4 linked regions of the Homo sapiens genome follow. The protein of the gene in region 2 interacts with the protein of the main gene of each other region in a pairwise test. Each region holds a gene or a part of one and is shown on either strand. Other genes may lie near its edges.

Region 1 (7,970 bases), on a different chromosome or scaffold from region 2:
GGGACTCTGCCTCCCAAGTTCCCATCGCTCACCAGCAGGTCTGAACAATACACACCAGGTTGTGCTGGGCCTGCAGCTCGATCTCCAGGGCGTTGACTGTGCGTCTCAGCTCGATGATCTCCGCCTGGCAGGACTGCAGCTGCTCTGAGCTGGATACCACCTGCTTGTTCAGCTCCTCGGTCTGAAACACCCAAGTGGGGAAAGGATCAGACCCTGTCTCCAGGGCCCTGGGGCACCTCGGGTCCTGAGTGGCCATGTGCTTAGATGCCCACCTGCGTGGCGAACCATTGCTCCACTTCCCTGCGGTTAATTTCCACCAGAGCCTCATACTGACTCCTGGTCTCGTTCAGGACCTGGTTCAGGTCCACAGTGGGGGCAGTGTCCACCTCCACGTTGAGGCGGTCTCCAAGCTGGGAGCGCAGGGTGTTAACCTCCTGTTGGAGAAAAGGGAAACAATGAACCTACGGCAATGGATCTGCCATTTTCCTGCTCCAGGGAAATGAGCACAATACTGCCCAAAAAGCACTAAAAGGAATATTCTGATCATTCCCAAAGAGTGACACACACATTTTATAGCAATAAACTCCAACAGGGATCACATCAATTGCTGTCCCATGGAAGATGTGCCATCTTCCTGCTCTGGGAAAATGAGCTTGATGCTGCCCAGAAAGCACTAAAAGGGGCCGGGCACAGTGGCTCAAGCCTGTAATCCCAGCACTTTGGGAGGCAGAGGCAGGTGGATCACGAAGTCAGGAGATCGAAACCATCCTAGCCAACATGGTGAAACCCCATCTCTACTAACAATACAAAAATTAGCTGGGCGTGGTGGCATGTGCCTGTAATCCCAGCTACTCAGGAGGCTGAGGCAAGTGAATCACTTGAACCAGGGAGTCGGATGTTACAGTGAGCCTAGATCACGCCACTGCACTCCAGCCTGGTGACAGAGCATGACTCCGTCAAAAAAAAAAAAGCACTAAAAGGAAGATTCTGATCATTCCCAAAGAGTGACACACACATTTTATAGCAATAAACTCCAACAGGGATCACGTCAATTGTTGTCCCATAGAAACGGAAACAACCTCACACCTTCTACAAGACTAAGTCTAAACTCCTTGGCATATGCAAGTCCTTCCTCGCTTCCCATCACATCTTCACTTTCATCCCTTGGAGGTACTGCATGCCCAGCCATACCCAGATACACCCTGCCCTGCCACTTCTGTGTCTTTGTTCAACCTCTTCCCTCAGACTGAAACACCCAAGTACTGGAATCCTCCTCTTTGCATCTGAGAAGAGTTCCCTATCTCCTCTTGGGCAGCCTGGATTATTTCTAGAGCATACTGCTTGTACATCTCATATGGTACTTGTTTCACTCTGTCTTGTTTATATCACTGTGTTTATATGACTGTCTTTCTATACTAGACTGTGAGCTCTTTTAAGAAAAGGGCCATGTCTTATTTCTTTTTTGTCCCTCCATCTCCACCACCAAATTCAGGACCTAGCAGTGATCAGCAGAGAGCAGGGCTCAATGAATGATGTCCCTCCTCAGTAATTCCAACACCTGCCTAACCCTCACCCAGCCGCTGAAGAATGAGCAGCTCACTCCACTCCTTGATATGGATGTAGCACCGTCACTCTCTGAGAACATCTTGAGTTCCTCAGAGAAGGGTCCCAGACCAGGGATCCAGACAGTAATCCTCTCCTGATTCCCAGTGCTAGTAGCTTAGTTCTGAGGCCTGCTTTTGTGAATTTGTTTCATACCTCCTCATGGTTCTTCTTCAAGCAGATCAGCTCCTCCCTCAGGGACTCCACCTGGGACTCCAGGTCAGACTTGCAGAGGGTCAGCTCATCCAGGATCCTGCGTATGCTGTTGATGTCCGACTCCACCAACAGCCTCAGGGACTGCTCCGTCTGGTACCTGCACGTGTCGGAGTGGGAGGATAAGTCAGGAAAGAAAACCACCTTCCCCTCTCATGTGTTGTTTGGGTAGAATTGGCCTGAATCTTCTTGAACTTACAGTTTTCTGCCTCTTCTCTTCCATATGCTTCAGTCAAGCTGTCCATGGATAGGCTGAAGAGGTTCCCTGACTCACCTAACACCACGAGGAGCCCACAGGCACACATGAGATGAAGTCTCTCACTGTGTTCTCGGTTTTGTTAGCTAATATACCACCAAATCAATTCCCAAAGAACAATTCATTTCAATCTCTGAATTTTGTGGTTTAAGAAACACTTCCAAAAAAAACCAGTATAGACCAAAGAGCAGGCAGCACATGAGTCTAGTTCCCTATTTGAAACTAATTTTACATAACCAGCCCTAGGAGGAGAAATAGAGAGAAATGGCTTTCTCCTCTCTTCCAGGCAATAGTAGGTCCCTAGGGCCATGAAAGAACCATAGGGACCTTGAAGTTCAACATACTTGCTTCTGAAGTCGTCAGAGGCCAGCTTGGCATTGTCAATGTTCACCACCAGCCTGGCATTCTCAGCCTTGGCACACAGAATCTGAAAAGAAATTTCTCTCATGAGGTACACTTGAACTTGAAAATGTCTTACTGTTCAAAGAGAGCCAGCTGCTGCTGGCCCCCCATATGGCCAACCCCCTCACCTTCTGCTGGAGCTCCTCAATGGTCTTGAAGTAGGACTGGTAGCTGGGGCACAGCAAGGGCTCCTGCTGCTGGGACCGCTCCTGGATGAGTTTCTCCAGCTCCGCGTTGTCCCGCTCCAGCTGACGCACCTTCTCCAGGTAGCTGGCCAGGCGGTCGTTCAGGAACTGCATAGTCTCCTTCTCGCTGCCATTGAAGGAGCCCTCACAGAACCAGTTGCAGTTGCTCACATTGGCGGGGATGTTGCAGGCCCCAGGCAGGGTGTAGCCGTGGCAGCTGGGGGGCACGCAGGGCCGGGAGGAGCAGCTGGTGCGGCAGCCCAGGCTGGGCAGGCAACAACTGTAAGACATGGTGCTGGAACAGGTAATGGAAAAGCAGGTAAGCTGCTGGAGGTGGATGTGGGCAGGTTTGAGTCTCTCCTTCCTCTGCAGTCCTTTTATACCATTAATTGTGGGTGGGGGCTTGGCATACAGCATAGTTTCCTTTCCTAATGCTTCAGCTAATTTTTCTCCAAAATATGCTAGTTAGATGCTTCTAAAGAGTCCCCCCTCAACCCATAAAATTATTCCATTCAGCTTATGTCACACCAGGCTCTTCCTGGGTGCTAGTGGTTGGTGAAATCAGAGTTTCATCAGATGGCTTCATAGGAGATAGAATCATCACAGCCCCAAAAGGCTGTCTGCATTACTCAGAGGGGAGGACAGCCAGGGACATGGGGTGGAGTTGTTTGGGAATCAGGGATTCCTCACCCAGGAGTTTCCGCCACTGTTCTTTCTCCCCAGAGAGAGAGCTCTGAGAGAGAGCTTTGAGAGTTACTCTTCCAAGTAGCTCTTTCCTCCCACATTCATCCATGTTTCAGCATTCAATTTGTTTTTATAGCAGAAACTCAACCTGTATTCGCCGAAATGATCCTGAGCCTTACTATTCGTTGGGGTTTAGGGAACTTGCCAACACATGGAGCAACTGAAAACAATGGCATGTTCATGGTTGAGAAATGAGAAAGTAAAATGGAAACCAATGGAATGGATGGGAGTATACCTAAAAGAGGGCATCTGCAAATGGCAGCCCACACGTCAAGTTTACCCTGCTGAATTTTTGTAAATAAAGTTTTTGTTTGTTTGTTTTCTGTTTTTTTTTTTTTGAGACAGAGTCTCACTCTGTCGCCCAGGCTGGAGTGCAGTGGCACGATCTCGGCTCACTGCAACCTCCACCTCCCGGGTTCAAGCAATTATCTGCCTCAGCCCCCCGAGTAGCTGGGATTACAGGTGCCCGCCACCACACCCGGCTAATTTTTGTGTTTTTAGCAGAAATGGGGTTTCACCATGTTGGCCAGGCTGCTCTTGAACTCCTGAACTCGTGATCCGCCCGCCTCGGCCTCCCAAAGTGCTGGGATTACAGGCGTGAGCCAATGCGTCCGGCAGTAAATAAAGTTTTAATGGAACACAGCCATGCCCATTTGTTTAGCTATTGTATATGGCTGCTTTTGTGCTACAGTGGCAGAGTTGTGTAGTTGTGACAGAGACTATAGTGTCCACAAAGCCCTAAAATTAAAAAATTTGCCAACTTGTACTAAAGCAACAGCCTCTCTAAAGATGAGCAAGAGTAGAAATATCTAGAAGAAAAAATATGCTGGAAACAGTCTGGAGCAGTGAGAGTTCAGATGGCAGCACTGAAGCATGAATATGAAGCATAATACTGCAGACTCACCAAGAAACGAAAATTGGAGCAAGGGTGCTCAGAGGTATCTTTGTATCCATGGTGGCTTTTTCTCAAATTCTCTGGAAATTTCTATCATCTTATTTCTAGACTTGTTCCTCTTTCTAGAGTATTAACTCTCCTAGAGGTATGACTATGCCAGCCTGAGATGCTTCCAGGACAAGCCACAGTGCCCATGAGAATGCAGATTTACTCTGTTGTCCCTACAAGTAGACACTGTCTCTGATAAGTGTGCTTCTATCACCTCTGGGATCCAGTTACCCTTTGACTCTTGCATAACCTAGGGAGCCTCTCTATTGCCCAATAATCACTCTTCACAGAATAGCCTTCCCTACCTCACTTCTTTTCCCTGTCACTCTACCTTGCCTTTGTTCCGCAGGGAAACAAAGTCATGTTTCAGAAAGAAGTCCCAAAAGATTATTTGTGGAACACAATACAAATCATTTAAAGAAGGCTGCATCTGAATTTCAAAAGCAGCATGAGAGGAGCAGAAAAGCACATCTTCGATTTTATTTATTTGAGTGTTTCCTCTTTTTTTCTTAGTCTATCTAGAGGTTTGTAAATTTTCTGTGTCTTTCAAAAAAACTCTGTTTCATTGATTTTTTGCTATTGTTTTTCTAGTCTCTATTTTTATTTATTTCTGCTCTAAGTTTTATCGTAAGTATCATAATAAAATTTAGAGCAAAAAGTGTTATTATATCCTTCCTGCTGCTAACTTTGAGCTTAGTTTGTTCTTTATCTTTTTTAATTTTTTAATTTTTGTAGGTACATGGTAGGCGTGTGTGTATGTTTAGATATAGGTTTATGTATATACATATATAAAACTTTCCTCTTAGTACTGCTTTTGCTGCATCCCATAAATTTTGATACGTTGTGTTCTCATTTTCATTTGTCTCAAGATATTTTCTAATTTCCTTTTTGATTTCTTCTTTGACCCATTGATTATTTAAATGTTTTTTAATTTCTACATATTTGTGTATTTTTCAGTTTTTTTCTTATTTCCGTTCTAGTTTTCTAGTTTCATTCCATTGTGGTAGGAAAAGATACTTAGTATGATTTCAATCCTCTTAAATTCGTTAAGACTTGTTTTGTGACCCAACATATGATCTATCCTGGACAATGTTCCGCATGCACTGGAGAATATGCATTCTGCTACCATTGGATAGAACGTGTTATTTGTTAGGTCCATTTGTTCTATAGTATTGCTCAAATCTGTTGTTTCCTTGTTGATTTTCTATCTGAATGTTCTATTCATTATCAAAAGTGAGTTACTGAATTCTTCTATTATTGCATTGTCCATTTCTCCCTTTGGTTCTGTCAATGTTTGTTATATATATATTAGGTGCTCTGATGTTGGGTTCATATATGTGTGCAATTGTTATATCTTCCTGGTGAATTTTTTCATTATTATATAATGTTCTTCTTTGCCTTTTGTGACAATTTTTGACTTAAAGACTATTTTGTCTGATATATAAGTACAGCCATCCTGCTGTCTTTTGGTTACCATTTGTACGGAATATTTTTTTTCCCATTCCTTCACTTTCAGCCTATACATTGTCTTTAAATCTAAAGTCAGTCTCTTCTAGATAGTATGTAGATAGTACTTGTTGGTTTTTTGAAAATCCATTCAGCTACTCCATGTCTTTTGATTGGAGAGTTTAATTCATTTACATTTCAATAAATTATTGATAGGGAAAGACTAATATTGCCATTTTGTTAATTCTTTTGTCTTTCTCAGAGTTCTTTTGTCTCTCTTTTCCTATCTTGCTGTCTTCCTTTGTGTTGCATGGATTTTTGTATCGATATGTTTTTATTCTTTTTTCTTTTTCTTTTGTGTATCTTCTATAGGTATTTTTTTGTGATCATCATAGGGCTTATATGAAACAACTTATAACTGTCTGTTTTCAGCTGATAACTTTCACTGCATACAAAAACTACTCTTTTGCTTCTCCCACACACATCTTTTATGTATTGATGTCATTATTTACATCTTGTTATATTGCATATGCATTAACCTATTTTTATAGTTATAGTTATTTTTAATACTTTTATCTTTTAAATTTTATAGTAGAGGGCCAAGTGTGGTGGCTCACACCTATAATCCCAGCACTTTTGGAGGCTGAGGAGGGCAGATCACCTGAGGTCAGGAGTTCGAGAACATCCTGGCCAACATGGAGAAACTCTGTCTGTACTAAAAATATAAATATTAGCTGGGCGTGGTGGCAGGCACCTATAATCCCAGCTACTCAGGAGGCTGAGACAGGAGAATCGCTTGAACCCGGGAGGCGGAGGTTGCAGTGAGCCAAGATCACACCACTGCATACCAGCCTGGGTGACAAGAGTGAAACTCTGTCTCAAAAATAAATAAATAAATAAATAAATAAATAAATAAATAAATAAATAAATAAATTTTATAGTAGAATTAAAAGAGTGATTTACCTACCACCATTATAGTATTACAGTAGTCTATATTTATCAGTATATTTACATTTACCAGCAAGTTTTATACTTTCACATGCATTTATATTACTGTTTAACATCCTTTTGTTCCAACTTAAAGAACTTCCTTTAACATTTTTTGTAAGGCAGGTCCAGCGATGATGAACTACCTCAGCTTTTGTTTATCTATAAAAGTCTGTATCTCTCCTTCAGTTTTGAAGGATAATTGTACTGGGAATGATATTCTTGGTTGGCAGTTTGTTTGTTGGTTGGTTGGTTTGTTTTCAGCACTTTAAATATATTATCCCATGTCCTTCCGGCCTGCAAAGTTTCTGCTAAGAAATGTATTAATTACCTTATGGAGGTTCCCTTGTACATGATGTCACTTTTCTCTTGCTGCTTTCAAAATTCCCTATTTGTCTTTGACTTCTGACAATTCAATTATAATGTGTATCACTTTGATTTATCTGAACATCTTATTTGGGATACACTGGGCTTCCTGGATCTGGATGTCAATGTTCTTTCTCAGGTTTCAGGAGTTTTGAGCCATTATTTTTTTTAATAAGTTTTCTAAACTTTCTCTCTCTCTTCTCCTTCTGGATCTTCCTAATGTGAATGTTGGTCTGCCTGATGATGTCCCATACATCTCTTAAGCTTTCTTTACTCTTTTTTATTCTTTTTTCTTTTTGTTCCTCTGGATAATTTCCAATGGCCTGACTTTGAGTTCACTGATCCTATCTCCTGCTTGATTTAGTGTGCTATTGAATCCCTCTATTGAATTTTTCAATTCAGTTATTGTATTTTTCAGCAGCATGATTTCTGTTTGGTACTTTTTGTATTTTCTGCCTTTTTGTTGAAAATTCTCACTTTGTGTATTGTTCTTCTGGCCTTGCAGAGCATCTTTAATTATGGTTATTTTGTTTTTGTTTTGTTTTGTTGAGACAGAGTCTCGCTGTGTTGCCCAGGATGGAGTGCAGTGGCATGATTTCGGCTCACTGCAACCTCCACCTCCTGGGTTCAAGCATTTCTCATGCCTCAGCCTCCTGAGTAGCTGGGATTACAGTTGCGCACCACTGTGCCCAGCCAATTTTTATATTTTTAGTAGAGATGGGGTTTTGCCCTGTTGGCCAGGCTGGTCTCAAACTCCTGACCTCAAGTGATCTACCCACCTCGGCCTCCCAAAGTGCTGGGATTACAAGCATGAGCCATTATGCCC
Region 2 (7,022 bases):
CAGCCACACACGGCAAGTAACAGTGACCTGACGCTGCCTGGGGCTAAGAAGAAATGGATGCCTGGTGCCAGACAGGAAAAAGGAAAAGCACAGGTGGGCAGGGAGAAGAGGCAGTGCCCTGAGAGAGGACAGAAACCCGCACTCCAGCACACACAGTGACAACACTGAGCCTGTGTTTTAGGAATTACCCGCAGCTTCCAAACCATACAGTGCTTTCTTCTGCTCCTCCTCCAGCTGCTGCTTGCTTTGCCTGCAAACAAAGCATCTGAAAGACAAGAATATCATCACCTTTTAAATATGGAGCTGCAGGTGCAGTGCGTATGCTTGGCACATATAGATGTATTTACATTCTTTTCACATACGAAAAAATTCCATTTCAAAGGCTTAACAAAATATTTTTTGGCATATTAATTAGAGGTTTCAGAATGAGACCTACTTTTACAATGACACATTCAACATGTCCTTCTCTAAAAGGTTTGGACATGAGGAGAAGCACAGCATGAGGACGCTGAGGTGCCACCTGGAGACGGTTTCTGCCTGGCCCTCCAGCTAACATAGCCTGGCTGGGAGAAATGACTGAGGCACTGGTTCCCCCAGCGGACTCCTGGGGTGAGGACTCATTTACTTTCAGAAAACAAATCATACAGGGTTTATCTGTTACAGTCAATAACAAGCAAATAACTCAGAACCATCAGCTTAGAACTTAGTCATTCGTCTAGCACGTCCTTCTGATCTTGGGGGCTGCCGGATTCACGCTGTCAAACAGGACACTGTTTGCACTGATGGAAATCGCTCATCAGCAGCCGAGTTCTTTAATGCACTGACGCAAACAGCATCTGCCTCTACATATTCTGATTTTATGGTCTCCAATTCTTCACTTAAAAAAGGAAAGGAGCTAGAAGGAGGTTCTGAAGTCTGCATGACTTAAAAGGAAAGGACGTGAGTGTCCTTCACAAAGGCGCAGCTGTCTCCACAGCCCCGTGTCCTCAGCCCCAGGCAGAGCAGAGACAGGATGACCATTCAGGCGCCCTCCATGGTCACTAGGGAGGTCATGCGGCCTGGGACAACTATGTTTAGATTTATTTAAGGTTCTATTTACACTGGTCGCATATTACTGAATACACTGTGTGGGGGTGGGGGCGGAGATATGCCAGGTGAAAGGAGTCCCTGCTTGTTCAGTGGCGTAGCCACCATTGCAGAGCCTGCAGTGGCCAAACTGGGGGACCAAATGTAAGGGGAGAGCGCAGCGTTTCCAGCTGTGTTGTCTGCACTCAGCCTCCCCTCCCCGGTGGGGCGCCTCTTTCCCTTTGCATCCCCTCTCCCTGGGCAGCTGCCCTGGCTCTGCCCCCCAACCCCTGGCACCAGCCCTTGTTGCCAGCCCGAGCCTTCTTGCTGAGGGTCCCTGCCTTCCTGTGGGGTTGAAGGCGTGGCTGGCCTGGGCTCTGCTAACCTTAGAGTGGGCTCCTGCCTTGGAGCATGGGGCTAACATGGGTGAGGGTCTCAGCCAGGGGTGTGGACAGGAGGGTGGCTGCTGAGAGTGCACACTTCAGCCAGCTCTACCAACGGTCCTGCCACCAGTGCCCTGCACACGCACAGTCACTGATAAGGTGTCTGCCATCCTTTCCTGCCTGCATTTCTCCTCCATCAGGCCCCTGCAGGGGGTAAAGGGAACCCCAGCAGGGAAAGACCCTGTGCTCAGCCCCCACTCCAACAGTGGGTGTGGGACCCTCCCCCAGAGTCCTCATCCCTGGCACAGCAGCAGCTGCCTGCGCAGGCCATGGGGACAGAGATGGGGACAGCAAGCCCCATGCACGCCTAGGCCATCATGGGCATCATAGGCATCGTGTGTCTGGGCACGCTACATCCGGCACCTTCCACCACATTTGGAAAATACTTCTGCATTCACCTTCCTAACCGTCCTGCTTCATTTCCCGTCATTTGCAAGAGAAACACACAAAGCAATGCACTTACCCTGCCCGGCAGGGCTTCCTATCCCTTGGAGATCCCACCGTGTGTTGTGCAGGGAGGAAGGACACTGTCCCTTCATAGCAGTGGTGGGAGAGGAAGGTCTTTAAACCTGGGAACAGAGTGCAGTGAAGAAAAAACATCCACAAGGGTCATTGCTTGGTTAGGATGCTGTGCTGGGCAGCTTCAGAAATGTCGCTGAGCGCGCATCTGCCTAAACCGTCTGCAGGAGGGAGAGGCCGGGCCTGCTTCAGGCCATGTCACCATTGAAGGCAGTGGCAGGGTCTCTGCCCTCCCTCAGGACAACAGCACGTCTAGTCATAGTGCTGGTGCCTTCTGACACCCAGTGATGCTGGGACAGCCAGGGCTATGGCCACTCTTGACGCTGGCAAAGTGGGGCCTTTGCCATTAGCCACCCCTCATAGCCTCGATGATGTGGCCTGTGGGCTCCAGTGGCTCAGGGTCATCCCCTCCACCTCTTCATGAGGGTCAGTGATGCCCCCACCTGCCTCAGGGCTTGGCCCCCACTGGGGTCAGCCACAGCCCCTGTGACGTCCTGAACAGCTCAGGACAGAGGCCAGGGCCGCTGCCACCCAAAGTCTGGGGCCACCCTCCAGGCAAACGTGTGCGCTGTCCACGGGGCTGCCAGCAGCCTGGCACCCGGGCTGTCTGGGAAACACCACCCAGCAGGACAGCAGGGACTGGGCAGGAGGCAGGAGAGGGGCCCCAGGGTGTCGTGGGCCACACCAGGAGCCAGGCCGTGTCCTGTGAGTCTCAGGGCGACTTCACTCCTCCGTGTCTGATGCTGGGGCTGGTGCTGCCCTGTATGACATCTGGTGTGGCAGTGACGGCCTGCAGGGCCGTCACACACAACCTTACCCCCGACACACAGAGGCCTCACATCCTCATCCGCAGATGGCAAGCCCACAGCCAAGTGTGCACCGCCCAGGGGTGGGGGAAGCTGCCGGCAAGAGCAGTCTGGCTCCTAGGACATCTGTGTGCCTGAAAGTCAGCTCCCGACTGTCCCTAGGACAGCCCCGTCTGTGGGTCTTGCACCTGGCATGGGCCAGGTGCCTGGAATGCACTCAGCGGGCGGGCCCTTCCAGGTGGCTGCAGCTCCGCCTCCCTGCAGAGTGGCTCTGGCCTCTCTCCCTGCTCCTCCCATGGGGGTCCCACAAGGACGTCGTGTCCACGGCCCTGGGAGGAGGCCGACCCACTGGTCAGCAACCTTCCAAGCCGGCTCCTCTCTCAAGTGCAGGGGGCAGGGGGGCAGCTGCCTCATCACCCAGACGCAGCCTCCAGGGTGGCGCCTCACCGACATCTGATGTCCCGGTTTCTGTCTGCCCCTAGATGGGCCCCAGATGTCCTACCGGCACCTAAAACTCCACGTGTCTCAACAGAGTGTGTCATTTCCACACGCTCATTCTCCTTCCATGCCCTCTGTGCTGCTCCAGAACAACCGGGTGCTTTCTGCCTCACAGCCACAGAACCCAAACCCGCTTTCCTGAGAGCATCTCAGGCCCTGTGGCCAGGATGGGGATCCAGAGACCCGGAAGGCGTCTCCTGCCTCGGGGCTCTCATCCTGGTGGGAGGGACAGAGCTGCAGCCACTGCCTGTGGTGATGGGCTGAGGGCAAAGGGGGGGGCCAGGCATGCAGGGGGGCTGCCCACCACCCCACCCCAGCAGGCAGGGACAGGGAGGGGGCATCCCAGGGGCATTCTAGGCAGAGCCACACTGGGCTCAACAAAGGGCAGTCGGGAGAATGGCACAACCCAAACCGCTTCCTAAAATTCTCGCGGCTTCTCTAATTTTCTCGGTATTCCCTTTCTTAATAAGCCTTAGATAAATACCTCACTTTGCCATTTCTTAGGTTTTAATTTTCAAGCCACACTAGTTTTTAATTTCATTAAATCTTTTCAAGCTTCGTAAAGTTTGCCAAATCACTATTTCTTTCTCTCATAAGGGTTAAGATTTTAGTATCAGGAATTACTCGATTTAATTTGATACAGATTTATCTGAAAGCGAACTGTAAAGAGGCGGGAAAGTCGACCGGGCAGCGAGAATGGCACACCTCATGGTCTACATATTTTCTTCTTTCTTTCTTTTCTTTTTTTTTTGAGACAGGGTCTGGCTGTCGCTCCAGCTGCAGTGCAGTGGCCTGATCTCTGCTCACTGCAGCCTCCACCTTCTGTGCTCAAGGGCTCCTCCTGCCTCAGCATCCCGAGTAACTGGGGTGCCCGGCTAATTTTGTTTTTAATTTCTGTGGAGATGGGGTCTCCCTATGTCGCCCAGGCTGAAATTCTACTTTTCTTTTTTTTTGAGACAGAGGTCTCGCTCTGTTGCCCAGGCTGAAGTGCAGTGGCACGATCTCAGCTCACTGCAGCCTCTGCCTCCCGGGTTCAAGCAATTCTCCTGCCTCAGCCCCCCGAGGAGCTGTGACTATAGGTGTGCACCACCATGCCTGACTTATTTTGTATTTTTAGTAGAGACAGGGTTTCACCATGTTGGCGAGGCTGGTCTTGAACTCCTGACCTCAGGTGATCCACCTGCCTTGACCTCCCAAAGTGCTGGGATTACAGGCGTGAGCCACTGCCCCTGGCCAATTCTATGTATTTTTAAAGTTCTCCTTTTCCAGCGTTTAAAAGCTGGTGACGTCGCACCCACTGCCTGATGTGTGCAGACTGCAACTCTTGTGTCTGAACTGGCACCAGCCTTCATTTCTGGTTCATTCTAAACTCTGTGGTCGGGTAACAGGTCACCGCCGCCTGGCCCGAGGCCCCAGCAGCAGCCCCGGGAGCCTGGAGGACCTGCATGTTCCGAAGCCCACCCAGACCTGCCGTGTTGGATGCTCTGGGGGGTCCCCGCAGCCTGGGTTCTACCAAGCCCTCCAGAGGATGCAGGTGCCCACCACAGTCTGAGGACCACTGGGCTCAAGAAAGAGTGAGGCAGGATGCGGGCAACCTCTTTGTGCCTGTTTTCTCCGCTATAAAGTGGGGCAGGAGCACCTGCTGGGGTGAGAAGAGCACTGTGGAGAATGAAAGCTTTTGGGCTTCAGGGAGTGCGGCGTGGCATTCGCTCCCACTCCTCCTCCTCTGTGCCCACTGCGGCCGAGCCGCAGGAAGGCAGGATCTTGCCTGTTTTGTTCATGGACACGTCCCTGCCTCAAAAACCAGGCCCGGCATAGAGCAGGGGCTCAACAAATACGTGCTGAGTGTATCTCACTTGTATGGCTAGCTACGGTGTAACCCCAACAAAACCACGCAACCTTGTTGAATGAAGTAAAGGATACCTGTGCCTGAAGTTACAGAAGAGCTTCCACACAGATATCCCAGGCTGAATTTCTGCACAAAGTTCTTGCCACTTTGACTAATAAGCTCAGAGTGATTATAAAACTATTGTTTTACAGGCCAGGCATGGTTGCTCATGGTTGTAATCCCAGCACTTTGGGAGGCCGAGGTGGGCAGATTGCTTGAGCTCAGGAGTTTGAGACCAGCCTGGGCAACAGGGCAAAACCCTTTGTCTACAAAAATATACAAAAAAAAAAAAAATTAGCTGGTCACGGTGGCATGTGCCTGTAGTCCCAGCTACTCGGGAGGCTGAGGTGGGAGAATCACTTGAGCCTGGGAGGTCAAGGCTGCAGTGAACCGTGATCGTGCTACTGCACTCCAGCCTGAGTGACGGAGGAAGACTGTGTCTCAAAAAAATTTTTAAAAAATATATTTTAAAAACTATTTTTTTTCCAATTAATACTTCCACTTGAACAGTTTGGGGTGGCCTCTGTCACCTGCCTACCAGATGTGAGAGGCTGGTGGCCTGGCGTCTTGGGGTTCCAGCACCTGGGGTTCTGGAGTGAACTGCGTCCGTCATGGTGTCTACTCTGTGGCTTATGCTTGGGTCCAGGGGGCAGGATCTGGTTTAGAGCAATCCAGGTTCCAGTCCAGACCCTGCCACGTTCTGGCCCCGGCACATTTCATGAGGCCCTTAGCTTCCCGTCTGTGAGCAGGTGGGGGCCCACCTCTGACGGTGCTCAGTGGATTCAGTCAGGTAACATCTGTGAAGGCAGTCGGGGCACGACCAGCGGGGAGCGAGTCTGCATTATTCTGAGTTACCTGAAAAGTCGTATCTGGCAAGACCCAACCACCGTTTCTTCTCACTGTCCTTGATGATGTCCCCGTAGAAGCCGTAGCCCAGCAGGGACACGGAGTAGCGAAGGAGTGTGCTGTTGTGGTGGACTGAGGACACATCCATGGCCAGCGAGTCCCCTGTGGGAGAGAACGGCCGTGAGGGAAGGCAGCCCCCCTCCAGCCCCGCCCCATCCACTCCATCCCCTTCAATAGCACTTTGCAAACGTGGGAGTTACTTTTAAAAAGTGTGAAACAAACAGAACGCATTCAGTGCAAGGATTCTCTCTCTTGGGGTGTTGGATGCCATATTTTTTATTCAAATGACTGAACTCCACTCAAATTTCTAAAACAGGCTCGGGGAGCTATCCTGTGGGGACTGAACAAGAGTGTATCCGTGAGGCTCATGAAATATCTTTAACTGAAAGGACGGTGGTTTTAGAATGAAGAAAAAGTACATGGCATTTTAAAATACAAAATCAAGCCGAGTGCAGTGGTTCACGCCTGTAATCCCAGCACGTGGGGAGGCCGAGGCGGGCAGATCACCTGAGGTCAGGAATTTGAGACCAGGCTGGCCAGAATGGTGAAACCTTGTCTCTACTAAACATATAAAAATTAGCCAGGCATGGTGGCGTGTGCCTGAAATCCCAGCTAGTGGCGAGGCTCAGGCAGGAGAATCGCTTGAACCCGGGAGGCGGAGGTTGCAGTGAGCCGAGATCATACCACTGTACTCCAGCCTGGGCCACACACAGAGTGAGACTCTGTTTCAAAAAAAATAAAATAGGCCAGGTGCGGTGGCCCGCGCCTGTAAGTAACCCCAGCACTTTGGGAGGCTGAGGTGGGTGGATCACCTGAGGTCAGGAGTTCGAGACCAGCCTGGTCAACATGGTGAAACCCCGTCTCTACTAAAAATACAAAATGAGCTGGGCGTGGTGG
Region 3 (8,000 bases), on a different chromosome or scaffold from region 2:
TAAGCAGGCAGCTCATGTACAAAGCTGGTTCATCAAAGATAAACAACAACAAAAAAATTTTTCATATACTTTCTATTAAGCAGGGCATTCTAAAAATTCTAAGACAATTCCGGCAAAACAATAATTGATAGAGCTATAATGAGATTTGTTCCAAGAGCTTAAATGTATAAATATGACCTTTAAATTTTTCAAGCATTAACAATATTTCCATCAAGTTCAAATACATTCAATCACACTTAAAATTATGATTATAATCCTTTTGATGATCCATGGCTTCTCTCTCATACATCAGTAATTATACTTTAATCCATTATCTACTTAGAAATTTCATAAATATTCAAGTTCTGTACCCCCAGGCGAAAATTCACTCAGGTACTAAGTTAAATTCTCAACAAAACAACAACAAAACATGTGTGTGTGTGTGTGTGTGTGTGTGTGTGTGTGTGTGTGTATATATAATAAAAACCAATCTGTGGATTTAATGGAGTTGATGGCATGTATTGGGAAAAAGACTACAAAGAAGATTTAACTATGATGCTCATGGAATTTACAATTTCAAAAGAAATTCATGAAGCATATTTACAAGGAACAAACATACGTGTACTCATCCATTCAAACCTTTCCTGAGCATCTGCTATGTTCTTGGCATGCAGGGAATGAAGAGGCAAATCAGACCCGATGTGTTGCCTGCTGTCAAGGAGATGTCATGACAGAATCTATGCGATATTTACAGTAATACCATGGGAGAAATTAATTGATTTCTGGAGAGGGCAAGGGAGTGGAATGAGAGAACAGAGCAGAAAAGGCTTCAAAGAGTATAGGCTTAAGTATTTTTAAGGAAAAAATTTCATCACAAGGATCACCTGTAAATCAGCTCGCTGGGAAATAAGTATTTATACTGAAGAACTAAATTCAAGTCAGAGCAGTGATAAGAGCAAACGAGATGGACAGATTGCTCCAGAAGACTGAGTTATGTATCCTACAAAGTTATGCTACAGGAAAAATGAAAAGGCTTCAGAGTCATAAGATCTCAGTTAAATACCAGTTTGGCTGCTACATTTGTGAAATTAGTTAATTTCATTTCTAAATAAAAAATGTTATAATGCCATTTACTTGACAATGAAGCAAAACTAAAAGAATTTTTAAGAACAACAGAAATTGGCAATACAGCCTGAGCAACATGGCAAAACCTTCTCTCCACAAAATTCAAACAAAAATTAGCCAGGTGTGGTGATGCGCTCCTGTAGTCCTAACTACTCAGGAGGCCGAGGTGGATCACCTGGGCCCCGGGAGTTTGAGGCTGCAGTGAGCGGAGATGACACCACTGCACTCCAGCCTGGGCGACAGACAGAGACCCTGTCTAGGAAAAGGAAAAGGAAGGAAGGAAAAAGAGAAAAAAGGAAAAAGAAATTGACAATCAAATATGAGCAGAAGCTGTATTTTTAGATCTAAAAAGTAAAATTCTCCAAGAATTTGGGGTTTTAGGGCTTACTGTATTTGTGTTTAAGAGCCTTTTCAGTTCATTTAACAGAATTTTAAAGCAAGATGTCTTTATTTAAAAATCATTTAGATTCATTTACTGAGGCTGAATATTTTCTTCTGAAGCTTAGTCACTATACTAGTTTTATTTAGAGGCCGATTACGTGTGCTTTCCAAATAAATAGCTTAATACCATTCATTCCCCGTGTGGTCGGGACCCAAAGAGATTATAATGAAGCCTTCGTTAATACTGAATTAACGTGAAGACCCCACGAGCTGCCAGAGTATTTAAAAAAAGTAAATGCTCAAAACGCGGTAGGCATTCACCCTTAAGAAACTAAAGGGAGGGGAAAAAAACTTCAAACTGTCAAGATCACTTCTTATTCTTAAGAGAACACATGCCTTTAAGACTCTCAAAGTTTCTGTCTAAATCTTTCTTTAATGAGTCTCTTCAGCAACGTACTACACAACACGACAAAGAAGGCATTTATCAACAACGCGTTTTGTGAGTCTATGAATTACCGAGGAGGGCTTAGGTGTCTGTAACCTTCATACCCACTTCCACCGCACACTCAAGTTATTGCTGGAATGTACGGAGAGCACACAAGGCTATTCAAGCAACACCGGCAGCGCGCTCTCGGCCTTCAATCACATTTTTAAAAAGAAAAATAAATTCGTCAAAGGATCATAAAACTTGAAAAGGCTCCAAATAAATAAACCATCGCTTCTATCAGAGCAAGTTCTGCGGGGCCATTTTCGTCTCCCAAGTGACATACAAATATGTAGTTCAGGTCATAAGGTCCCCGACACGCAGACCCTGCAAACTTTTCGGCCAGAAATTTGTCGCGACCCTGAGACGCCCCCGGCCGTGTCCAGGACCCCCGTCCTCAGGCCCCACAACTTCTCGCCCGGCCTCGGGGCTCCTTCCCGCGTCCGCCGGCCCCCGCCCCGCAGACCCGTGGACCGGACCCTACCCGGCGGCCCCCGTCCCCCCGCGGCGGCGGCGGCGTCCTACGGGCGGGCGCGGCTCGCTCCCGGGCTGGCGGGACGGCGGCGGCAACTGGCCCGCGGGCCGGCCCCGGCGCGAGGGGAGCGGCCGGGAGCGCCCCGTTTCTCACAGACCCCAACATGGCGTCGGCCGCCACCGCCCGCGACGACGACACCTCCCGGCGCTGCGACGGCTCCGGGACCGCGGGAGGAAGCGCCCGGAAAGTTTCGCGTCTCCCCTCCCGGCCCGTCAGGAGCCGGCGGACCACCCACCCGGGCTTCACCTACCCCGACGGCCGCGGGCGGCGGCGGCGGCGACAGCGAAGGCGAAGGTCCGATCCTCCTGGTCGCGGACGCAGGGCGCGGACTCTGCCCGTTCCCCGCCGGGGCCTTCCAGGGTGTGTGCTGTCCGCAGCCCCGCGCAGCCGGCGCGATCCAGACGCGGTGGGCGGGCTGGCCGCCAGCGCAGCCGCTCGCAGGTGACTCCCCCGCCCCTCCAGTCGAACCCGACAACGGCTGCCTGGGCTGGCCTCTCCCCTGCGCGCGCACGGGCGCGCCCCCGTCCACACTCCGGGCGCGAGCGCGCGGGCACGAGCACACCCACACCCCTCGCTCCCCGCCCTTTCTTGCCAGTTCCCTCGCCCCGCCCCTCGCGCCCCTCGCGACGCGCTCTAGGGGCGGGGCCTTTGGCGGAGGCCACACCCACTCAGGCCGGCCGCGGGCGGAGCTTGTCCATGTGTGAGGTCGGGACGCGCTCCCGCGACGCGTTGAGGTGCACGTGAGGCGCCTTACCTGACTTTCCTGACTCCGACCAGCCCTTAGAAAGTATTGCTCAACTGTCTACGAAGTTCTTAGGGAGACTGGAATAATAGAAGGAAGACACCTCCCCACCCACAACAGGCCTCCCCGGGGAACTGAAGAACGAGAAAGGCAGGCTTTGGATCTAAATGCCCAAAGGCATCGGTACTGGCATTTGCTGCTCCCATTTAGCACAGCAATCCTTTCCGTCACACTTTCCCTTTGCTTTACCTAAAATCCCTCCTCTTGAAACCAAGGGAACTGCGGCGACACACACATACCCTACGTGCTCCACCCAGCCCTTTCTTTTAAATGCATACTTTAGAATTCTGGTCTTCCCAAAACTTTGACGACACAAAACCCCATCAGCCTACTTCACATACCTAGAAACTGTAATTATTGCATAGTATATAAGGTTAAATGTGCCCTAATTGATCTGATAGCTAAGCGCTCTGATGGGTTCGTAGAGAGGTAACGAAGTTGCTTAGGGTAGACTAGGGATGGGGGCGAAGTAGGGAGAACAGCATACTTATTTTAAACAAAGTGTGTGTGGTGTGTAGGAGGAAATTGGGTTTTGGTAAATTTTATATTTCTTATTCATCTATTACTTCAGTAAGTTGTTTTAACCTGTGTTTGATTGCTGTTGAATTAGAGTCACTACCAGCCAAGCTGCACGTGGATGAGCACCTAGGGATGAGAGCAGACTTGGGTTCCGCCCTGCTCTTCCACCTGGGATCTTCCTCCTCCAGGCTTGTTGCCTCCTATCCTCCCCTATTTCAATAGAGTTTGTCTCTGAAACAAACAAGTCTTTTTTTAAATTAATAATTAGAACAAAATTGGCAAAGATGAACTTTTTTTAAATGGGGAAAATTGTATGATCACACACACACAATCTTTCGTGTGTTAGAGTTGTCTCTAGATGAGTACAGATGTCACCAGGACGCTTGTCCGTACCATCACTCTACCTCATTCACCTCTACGTGCACAGCAATATCTATCAGTGGGGAAAAGGCAGGACTAAATAATGCCTAAAATCCTTTTAAATTTTGAAAGTAGGAATTGCTATGTCTGACTGGTTGTCTAAGGTCAAGCCTAGAGCATTAGTTATCAAATATTTTTGGTCACTCACATTAGTAAAAATGTTTGCCCTCCTCACTTCCCATGTACTTATTTAGCTTAAGTAAAGTGCATAGATAGAAGCCAGAATGACTGTAATCAAACATTGGCTTTGTCTCTAACAACCTTGGCACATCCAAAGATAACTTTGGTTTTTTCACTTGTAAAATGGAGATAATAAAAGTATATCACAGAGTCATTATGCAGATGAAATGAATTAATATATGTAAAGCATATACCTGGCACACAGTGCTTTACAAGTGTGAAATAAAATTATTACATACATAATATACACATTTATATAGTGCTACGTAAGTGTGAAATAAAAGTTGTTACATATGTAATATACCCAGCTACTCAGGAGGCTGAGGCTGGAGGATCACTTGAGGCCAGGAGTTTGAATCCAGCCTGGGCAGCATAGCAAGACCCAGTCACACATACACACAGAATTATATGTATGATATATATAGTGTGTATTTATATACACACATACACCTATTATAATATACCTAGTATGTTAGGTACATTAAAAAACAACATACACACACAAAAAAATCAGAAATAATGATTTTAAATATATATATGTATGTTTTCTTTCTGTACTCTTCATAGTCTATGCCCTCCCTGGGCTGCGTGCACCCCAGTTTGGAGACCGTTGATTTAGATCTGTGCTAACAAATACAGTAGCCACTAACCACATGTCTTAATTAAATGTAAATTTATTTAAATTAAAAATTTAGTTTCTCAGTCACACTGACCACATTTCAAGTGCTTAATAGCCACATGACTATTGGACAGTGCACATATAAAACATTTCCATCATTGCAGAAGTTCTATTGGATAGCACTGACCAATCTGGAACAAAGCAGGGAACTCAAAAGTCACTGAAAGGAAGTAAGATTCACTCCTACCCGAACCTGTAATTGTGGTACCCTGTTCAAGTCAAGTGATAAGACAGCTCTTTGAGCCTCACATCTCAACCGTAAAATGAAGATAAAAATAGGAATTACTGGCCAGACACGTGGCTCACGCCCAGCCCCATCCTCCCACCCGCCCAATTTTTTTTTTTTTTTTTTGAGACAAGAGTCTCACTCTGTGGCCCAGACTGGAATATAGTGGCGTGATCTTGGCTCACTGCAACCTCCACCTCCCAGGTTCAAGTGATTCTTCTGCCTCAGCCTCCCAAGTAGCTGGGATTACAGGCATGTGCCATCATGCCTGGATATGTTTTGTATTTTCTTTTTAGTAGAGACGAGTTTTCACCATGTTAGCCAGGCTGGTCTCAAACTCCTGACCTCAAGTGATCCACCTGCTTCAGCCTCCCAAGGTGTTGGGATTACAGGTGTAAACCACCACACCCGGCCTATAATCCCAGCACTTTGGGAGGTCGAGACAGGAGGATTGCTTGAAGCCAGGAGTTCAAGACCAGCCTGGGGAACATAGTGAGACTGTGTCTCTACAAAACAATTTTTAAATTAGCTGGGCACTTGGAGTCCCATCTCCTCAGGAGGCTGATGTGGAAGGATTCCTTGAGCCCAGGAGGTCAAGGCTGCAGTGCAGTGCAGTGAACAATGATCCAGCCACTGCACTCCAGCCTGAATGATGGAAGGAGACCCTTTCTCTTAAAAAAAAAAAAAAAAAGAAAGAAAAAAAAAGGAACTTCCTCATAAACTGCTGAATGGAGGAAATAAGATAATGTGTAAAGTGTATGACACATTGTTAAAACATAGAGGAACTTGAAAAGATTAGTAAAACTTGAGTTTATATTTCCCCAATTTGTTTTTTTAATTTTTTACATTTGAAAATAAGAGATTGGGTCTTGCTTTGCTGCCCATGCTGGATTCAAACTCCTGGGCTCAAGGGATCCTCCCTCTCAGCCTCTTCAGTAACTGGGATTACAGGCATGCACCACCAAGACTGACTAACCCGATTCTTTAATCCTGAAAGGCAAAAAAGATCACGTTATTGTTCTTGAATCTAACGTGTATCTTGTAAAAGTGAATAGTTTGGTTAAGTTTTAATTGAAAATAGAACATTCAAGAAATGATAGGATGGCAAATACCTGGATTTTAATTACTCCTTGATTTCTTTGTCCCCTCCACTTTTAAAGGCTGGTCTTCTCCCAGTTTTGCCCATCTCAGTAAAACGGCACTGCCATCCACAAACCTGATGAGCCATCATCCTGTCATCCTTTTTCCCATGTCCTCCATCCAATCTCTTTATCTCCAAAATATTGTAGGATCTACCTTCAAAACACTTTATCTCATCTGTTCTCCTCTCCTCCTGGCCCCTCCACACAGGAGCCACACAGGATTGTGTCACTCCCTGAAGAAACATTTCCATGGCTCCCCACAGAGGCTGCCATATAGAATTGTACAGTTGTGGTAGAACAACCCTATGGGAGAGTGCATTCACATTGGAGGCACTGGAAATTTAATATTTATTATGAATATTTTCTGGCAGATTTTAGTGAAATGACTCATTCTAACAAAATTATCTTACAACAATTTTCCAACAAGATGGAAATCTAATTTGCCCAGACATGCCACATAGAATAAGAGCGTTTCTCTTTCACTTAGTACGAAATACCAGCTCATCACCTGGTTCTACAAGACCCAGCACAATCCAGCCCCTGCCATCCCCTCCAACTTAAAATGATGCTACACTCCACCAACTGCCATTCACATTGACCTTCCATCATTTCCTAAAATAAATCAAGCTCAAAAGAGCTGCTGTGGCGCTCACTGCCCTGGACACCTCTCTACCTGGATAGTCACAACTCCACAGTCTCTGCCCTTCACATAGCTGCGGCTCCTTGTCATGTTTCAGTCCTCTGAGAGGCCTTTCCTGGACACTATGTCCTCAGTTACTCTCAGTCACAGCCCTTTGCTTGTTTCCCTCACAGAACTTACAGGTCTCCCTGGAGTCTGAAACCTGCATGAGGCCAGGGACCTCATTGTCCTCTCCTTTCTACCCATAGGCCCCAACAGGAGCATGTGCCAGCTTGTCAGTTGTCAACTCGGCATGATTGCCACCCCCTTCTACATTCTCTTCTGTACCTATAGGGAGACAGCCTAGCACTCTATTTTCCAGAGAACTTACTCTAAATGTTTCCAGGTTAAATTCTGCCAGTGGAGACACATGTATAAGGATTGAAAGGCAGAAGAAAAGCAGAACCCGTCATTCTCCAGTTGCTATGTTCTGAATGTTTGTGTCCCTCTAAAATTCATGTGCTGAAATATAATCACCAATGGGTTGGTTTTAAGAGGTGGGCCTTTGGGATGTGATTAGTTCATAAAGATAGAGCTCTTGTGAATGGGATTAGTGCCCTTAGAGAAGAGACCTGAGAGAGCCTGTGTGCCCTTCCACCACATGAGAACACAGTGAGAAATGTGCCATCTGTAAGGAACAGGCCTTCAGCAGACACCATTTGTTCTGGTTCATTGATCTTGGATTTCCCAGCCTCCAGAACTGTGAGCAATACATTTCTATTGTTTATAAATTACCCAGTCTAAGACATTTTGTTATAGCAGCCCAAATGGACTAAGATACCAGTATAAATTTGAACATGCAGCTCAAATCCTAAGGGGCTATTTTCCTGAACTTCTGGGAAAATATTA
Region 4 (6,941 bases), on a different chromosome or scaffold from region 2:
CTTAAAATCAGCAAATGCAGTGTATAAAAATAAATGAAATAGCTGTGGGAATGGAGGTGTAAAAGGCACACAATTTGCTGCTATTGCTATCTCCTCTGTTTGCATAATAATATTTGGATACTAATCTCGACATTGCGGCTGTGTTCCTTTTTGCTTTTGTCTTCTTGCATTCCTTATGTGTCCCTGTCTTCCCTGCTCCCTTGGCCAGGAGCCTATGTCTGAGTCCTGACAGTCACAGGTGCTTCCCAAGTATATTGGAATGGAGTGGCCCTGTGGTGACAGAGAATGCTCCCTGTGTATATTAAGGCACCTGGAAAATTTGTCCCTTAGGGATCTGGGAGCTCTAGGCATGCTGGCCTCGATGTTCTCACCTCTATTTCCTCTCTGCTTTCCCAGATTCCTGCATGGGTCCTGAAGGGATCACCTGGTGGTACAGGTTAATTGTCCATGTAGTGCCTGGATGGACTTTAGTTTGCTTAAAAAAGTAAGGCCTGGAGAATCAAGGTATAATATAAAGAGAGGCTGTTATGAGGCCTTCACAGGAGGTATCTCTACTAGGAAGCTCATGAACTAGCATTTTCACAAAAAAGAAAGAAGAAGTGGGGGAGGGAGGTGTTGGAGGATGAGAAAGAGGTCTCAGGGCTAAGAGACAGGTATTAATGGCCTAGGGAGCTGTGTTAGGGGTGAAAAAGGAAGTGACAAAAAGATTAAGATGGAGAGGGATGAATGAGACCAGAGTGAGGCAGGACAAGTAAGGTGCTGAGCAGAAGGTGGTGATGAGAAGCAGGGGAGGCAGAGGGTCAGAAGCCAGGAGAGAGGCCAGATTGAAGAAAAGCACCCAGAGCCGACCTCCTAACACTTGTGGTAGCATCCCTGCCCATCCTCCAAAAGCCTCAGGCTTGGACGGGGCATTCAGTGGCCATGGTTCCATTTCAAAACAGTCATCAAGCCCAGCGCTTTTATCTTCTTGCTGAGATATCCTGTCTCTGCTCCTCTGCACAGCCCCCTCTGTCTCCCAAAATCAGGCCTGTTCTTGCACCTGGATTCTTACTGTACCACCTATCAAATCTCCTGGCTTCCCTCCTAGCCTCCTGCAGGCCATTCTGCACATTAGAATCACCTGAAGCGGGGTGGGGGGGTTGATTCTAATTAATTCAGATGCTCAGATGGTACCCCAGACCAATAAAATCAATGTTTGGGGGGGTGGGGATCAGGCATCAGTAATTTTAAAAGATCCTCAGGTGACTTCAATGCACAGTAACGTTGGGGAGCTACTGAGCCTAAGGCATTTTCCTAAAGCACCAATTTTATCCCTTTCCTGTTGAAATGGGCTCAGAGGTTCAGTTGCTGTTGCACAACTGAACAACAGGTAGTTGAGAGAGGAGTGTGGACACAATTTTCCATGTTTTAGGATTTCTAGACTTGCATCGAGAATCCCTGGATTTCCTATTTATGCAAACACTATGAGAGGGTCATGGGTGGAGAGCTATGTTTGTTAAGCATCTACTAAATGTTTAATTGCAAGATGGATAATATCTTTCCCCTGAATTCACCAAACCTTTGCTCACAGAATTGCTTTTCCAGGCTTGAAAGCCTTCAAACTGGCCTTCCATTTTTCTGCCTCTTCTAATCCTGTCATCTTATGGTGCTGTCATCTTTCCGCTTCTAAGAAGTGTGCTCTTACTACTTCAGACTCCCCTCATGTGTGACATAAAAAGACTGGTTTGGTAGAGCAGGTGAGGATAATGTAGGACCTGATATGAAGGGTTAGCACTCCAAATGAATAATTGAGACCCTAAGTACTATGACTTCTGGATGGGAAAAAGAAGGTAGTAGGAGTTCATGGATGTATGGGGTATTTATATGGTCCGCAGGGTCAAAAGTGCCCCATAGAAGTTCTTTCTTTTCCATTAAAAGTTACAGGTATTAAGAGTTCATAGGAAGAGAAAGAGCAATTTATATTTTTATATCACATACAGATTACAAAGCACATACATTAATCCTTATATCTACAATATCATGGGGGGGGTATTGTCTCCGTTTTGCAATACAGCATTTTAAAGTTAAGATCCCAAATTTTAGGTTCCAATCCTGACTCTGTATCTTTCCAGCTGTGTGATCCTGGGGCTACTTAACTTCTCAAAGGATCAGTTTCCTCATGGAAACAGTGGACTTAGGGTGAGGGGTTAGCTGGGGTCATGCATGAAGTGCCTGGCAAGTTCCTTAAGCACTAAGTATTAGCTATTACTGTTTTGTACAGATGAGAGAGTTGGGGTTCAGAAGAGTGAAGTGCTCATTTACATAGTTAATGGCGCTTAGATTTGGAGCTCATGGTCTACATACATAGTGACCATTTAGGATACAATTAATTGCTACAAAATTCTTGGCTCCTCCTTTTAGATAAAGAAATGAACTCAGAGGCTCACTGGCCTGCCCTGTAGACTTCACAGCTGGCAAGTGGTCCCTAGTTTTCATGACCCAATGCGGCCCCACATCTGGTGCCTGGCACTTACGAGGTATGGATGCTCCTGAGGCGGCCCTTGTGGAAAGTGATGATGGTATTGCGGCAGCAGCGGCTCTCATAGTAGTAGCAGTTGAGATTGCTGCTGGCTGTGCAGCAGCACTTACAGTTGGGATCATTGGCCCAAGAGCAGCAACACCAATGGCAGTTGGGGCTCTCAGAACAGGTGCAGTGGCAGAACTGGCAGTTCCGCTCATCTTTGTAAGGGCAGGGGAAGCAGGTGCAGTTCCGCTCTGAGGTGAAGATGAACTTGCAGCACAGACAGGAGCATAACTGAGGACAACATCTCTGCCATGTACAACATGGACAGCAAACGCACATAGCAGTTTCCATGGTGCCTACATGATTACCACCGGCCTCCCAGGACTCTTGATGCCTCCTCTACCAGAATACTGCTATCAGTTCTCCAGTGGAGGAGTCCTTCCTCCCATTCCTGAGGCCGTCAGCTTGAAAGTTGCAAGAAGTTGGCTGTTATGAGGACTTCACAGCTGGTGTCCCTACCAGGAAGCTCATAGGCTGGCATTTACATATATCAGTCTGAGGGTATTTGCTTATGTCACAATCCCTGTCTCTCTACCATGCTAGGTAGATAGCAGGATGCGGCCTTGTGGGTGGTAGCTGGTATGTTGGTGGAAACTCCATGCTTCCATGGAACCAGCTGTAGAGGAGTGGTGATGCAATGAGCATCCTGGAAGTTTAGTTGTCATTTGTCACCTTTTGGATAATGGAGTAGATTTCTGAAGCTATTTCTCCTTGTTTGGTGTTCTGCCTGCAATTTGGACAAGTGGACTTCAGATTATGTCTTCGTAGACTGAAAGGCTTGGGTATGGTTAATTAGAAAAGTAGATTCACATGGTTTTCCACATGTTAGAGGAATTGATAGAATTCTATTTGAACAAAGGACAGTGTTTACAAATAATAGCAATGCCATATTTAAAGAGATATCACCATTCAGAGAAAGAGTTAAAGAAAAAAATATATAGGTTCACTTAGGAACTTCTTTCAGTAGTAATTGATTTTATCAATCAATGCATAGTCGCTGCTCATTTTCATGAAGCTTTATACTTAAGTCACTCTGAATATTTCTTGGGTTTTTTGTAGCTGCATGGTGTTTGGGTGAGGTTCAAGCTTTCTGTCTTTTCCCCATCCTACCCCCACTCCAAAAAGAGGCTGGAACTCTACATTAAATCTTTAACTGTTCTGCTAGTATATGCTCAGTATTCCTAGAAAAAAGACCCTATATTTTAGGGAAGAATTTCACCTTCCCATTTAAGCAGCTTGCAAAGATTAAAAGAACAGAAATTTCATGGTCATAGTACATTATAGTATGAATACTGTCTTGTTTTTAGAAAAAGAAGCAGAAGTGAGAGCTGAGTTTAGCTGCAGGAATTTACTGCATAATTTAGTATCTCCCCCTATGGTTATCACCTTTATAATAGAGAAAATCACTGAGTGCCAACTATGCCAGCCACACATTGATATTAGATTTCTACAAGTGAAAATCCCGGCTCTTAGGGTATGTCCTTTATCTTTTTTTAAGGCAAACTGCTAAATTTCTTACTCAAATAAATGTGCCAGTTAATACCAGCAAGGAACATACAACATTCAAAAAAGTGAAACTCCTTTTCCTCACGTTTGCCAAAACTCAGTTTTATCAATCTCTCTCTCCATCCTCCAGGCACATAGGTTAGAGTTTCATTCCCAGATTTATGATACATTTTCACTATTGGTTTCTATAAGGTCTTATTAAAAACTTATTAATATGTAATTCACTTACCATTAAAGTCACCATTTTAGAGTAAACAATTAAATGGTTTTCAGTATATTCATAAAATTGTGCAACTCTCACCATTATCTAATTCCAAAATATTTTCATCACCCCCGTAAAACACTCATTAGCAGTCTCTCCCTGTTCCTCCTTTCCCTCAGCCCTTAGCAGTTACTCTACTTTTCTGTATTTATGGATTTGTCTATTCTGGAGATTTCATATAAATGCTATCATATAATGTGTGGCTTTTGTGTCTGGCTTTAATTTAGTATAATGTTTTCAAGGTTTATCTGTGTTATAGCATGTATCAGTATTTTTTTATGGCTGAATAATTTCACATGGATATACCACATTGTATTCATTGTCAGTTAATGGACATTTAGATTGTTTTCACGTTTTAGCTGTTAAATGTTTAAATGTTTCTGTGAGCATTTGTGTATACATTTTTTTTGTGTGAGCATTTTTGTAGAAATATGTTTCCAGTTCTTTTGGGTAGGTTCCTAGGTGTGGGATCATATGGTAACCCTATGTTTAACTTTTTGAGGAAATGCCAAGCTGTTTTTCAAAGTGACTGCACAATTTTACATTCCCACCAGCAATGTATGAGAATTACCATTTCTCCACATCGTTTTCCAAACTTCTTGTCTTTTTTTTCTTCTGATTATAGCTATTATAGTAGGTATAAAGTAGGATCTCTTTGTGATTTACATTTGGATTTCCCTGATGGCTAGTGATGTTGAGAATCTTTTCATGTCCTTATAGGACATTTGTATGCCTTCTTTAGAGAAATGTCTATTTAAATCTTTTGCCCATTTAAAAATGGAGTTAATATCTTTTTATTGTTGAGTTGTCAGAGCTCTTTGTATTAGCTAGATACTAGACCCTAACCAGATATGATTTGCATCTATTTTCTCCATTCTATGGTTGTCTTTACATTTTTAAATGGTGTCCTTTGAAGCACAAAAGGTTTTAATTTTGATGAAGTCAAATTTATCTCTATTTTTTTTGTAGCTTGCCCATTTGGTGTCATTTAAGAAACCACTGCCCAATCCAAGGCCATGAAGATTTACACCTATGTAATCCTATAATAAATAGCTTTATAGTTTGAGCTCTTACACTGAGGTATTTGAATTATTTTGAATTGTTTTTGTATTTGGTGGGAGTTAGGGGCCCAATTTCATTCTGTTGCATGTGAATATCCAATTGCCATAGCAACATTTGTTGAAAAGACTATTGTTTCCCATTGAGTAGTCTTGAAACCCTTGTTGAAAATCAACTCACCATAGATATATGATTTATTACTGGACTCTGAATGCTATTTCTTTGATCTATATGTCTATCCTTGTGCTAGCCACACCATCTTGATTACTGCAGCTGTGTAGTATGTTTTGAAATTGGAAAGTGTGAGTACTCCACTTTTGTTTCTGTTTTAACATTATCTTGTATTTTCATATAAATTTTAGGATCAGCACTACTACTTTTTGTGCAAAAGTCCACTAGAATTTTGATAGCTATTGCATTAAGTCTGTGGATAAATTTGGGGAGAATTGCCATGTTAAGTTTCCTGATCCACGAACACAGAATATTTCACTATTTATTTAGGTCACCTTTAATTTCTTTCAACAATATTTTGTAGTTTCCATTGTACAGGTCTTGCACTTATATGGTTAAATTTATTCCTAAGCATTTCATTCTTTTGATGCTACTGTAAATAAAATTGATTTTCTTTATATTTGGATTGTTCATTGTTAGTGTGTAGAAATACAACTGATTTTTAATAGGGCCATTTATATTGACTTCTGTGTATATCTTGCAACCTTGCTGAAATCACTATTAGCTCTATTTTTAAAATTTATTTTAAAGGGTTTATATATATAACTTTGTGTTATCTGTGAATAAAGATATTTTCAGTTTTTCCTTTCTAATTTAGATGGCCCTTTTTTATTTTCCTTGCCTAATTTCCCTGGTTAGATCTTCAAGTACAATGTTAAATAGAATTGGCAAGAGTGGACATCCTTGTGTTGTTCCTAATCTTAAGGGAAAAAATTTTAGTTTTTCAACATTAACTATGGCATTCGCTGTCGGTTATTTACAGATGTCCTTTTATCAGATTCAGTTGTATTATTTGATTTTCATATGCTGAGTCAATTTAATAATCAAATTAATTATTTGATTTTCATATGTTGAGTCAATTTTCTGTTCCTGACATAAATCCCATTTCATAATGATGTAATTTTATATTTTGTTGGATTTGGATTGCTAGTATTCTGTTGAGAAATTTTTTAACAGACTAAGACAATATGATTTATTATTCTGAAGTAAATATACGGTTTATAAATATACAGGAACCTGTGATTCCCATCAAGTTCCTGGTAGGAACAAAATGGCACTCAAATTAATTTGTAGAAAAATTGGTTTCTCTTAAATGCAAATCAAAACCACAATGAGATACCATCTCTCACCAGTTAGAATGGTGATCATTAAAAAGTCAGGAAACAACAGGTGCTGGAGAGGATGTGGAGAAATAGGAACACTTTTACACTGTTGGTGGGACTGTAAACTAGTTCAACCATTGTGGAAGTCAGTGTGGTGATTCCTCAGGGATCTAGAACTAGGAATACCATTTGACCCAGCAATCCCATTACTGGGTAT

The links.
Region 1: the proteins of CERK (region 2) and KRT34 interact in binary tests that used the Homo sapiens proteins (3 or more experiments, as listed by UniProt).
Region 3: the proteins of CERK (region 2) and PLEKHF2 interact in binary tests that used the Homo sapiens proteins (3 or more experiments, as listed by UniProt).
Region 4: the proteins of CERK (region 2) and TRIM42 interact in binary tests that used the Homo sapiens proteins (3 or more experiments, as listed by UniProt).

Annotation. Positions count from the first base shown.
Region 1 is NC_000017.11:41,379,298-41,387,267, forward strand, and holds the start of KRT34 (keratin, type I cuticular Ha4), read right to left. Parts: upstream 3,010-7,970; 5' UTR 2,954-3,009; coding exon of another isoform or gene 2,950-2,953; coding exon 2,602-2,949; intron 2,499-2,601; coding exon 2,416-2,498; intron 1,916-2,415; coding exon 1,759-1,915; intron 435-1,758; coding exon 273-434; intron 182-272; coding exon 56-181; intron 1-55.
Region 2 is NC_000022.11:46,693,239-46,700,260, forward strand, and holds part of CERK (ceramide kinase), read right to left. Parts: intron 6,228-7,022; coding exon 6,075-6,227; intron 2,078-6,074; coding exon 1,972-2,077; intron 266-1,971; coding exon 189-265; intron 1-188. UniProt on the Homo sapiens protein: Catalyzes specifically the phosphorylation of ceramide to form ceramide 1-phosphate.
Region 3 is NC_000008.11:95,128,785-95,136,784, reverse strand, and holds the start of PLEKHF2 (pleckstrin homology domain-containing family F member 2), read right to left. Parts: upstream 3,001-8,000; 5' UTR 2,755-3,000; intron 1-2,754. UniProt on the Homo sapiens protein: May play a role in early endosome fusion upstream of RAB5, hence regulating receptor trafficking and fluid-phase transport. Enhances cellular sensitivity to TNF-induced apoptosis.
Region 4 is NC_000003.12:140,674,143-140,681,083, reverse strand, and holds the start of TRIM42 (tripartite motif-containing protein 42), read right to left. Parts: upstream 3,021-6,941; 5' UTR 2,855-3,020; coding exon 2,514-2,854; intron 1-2,513.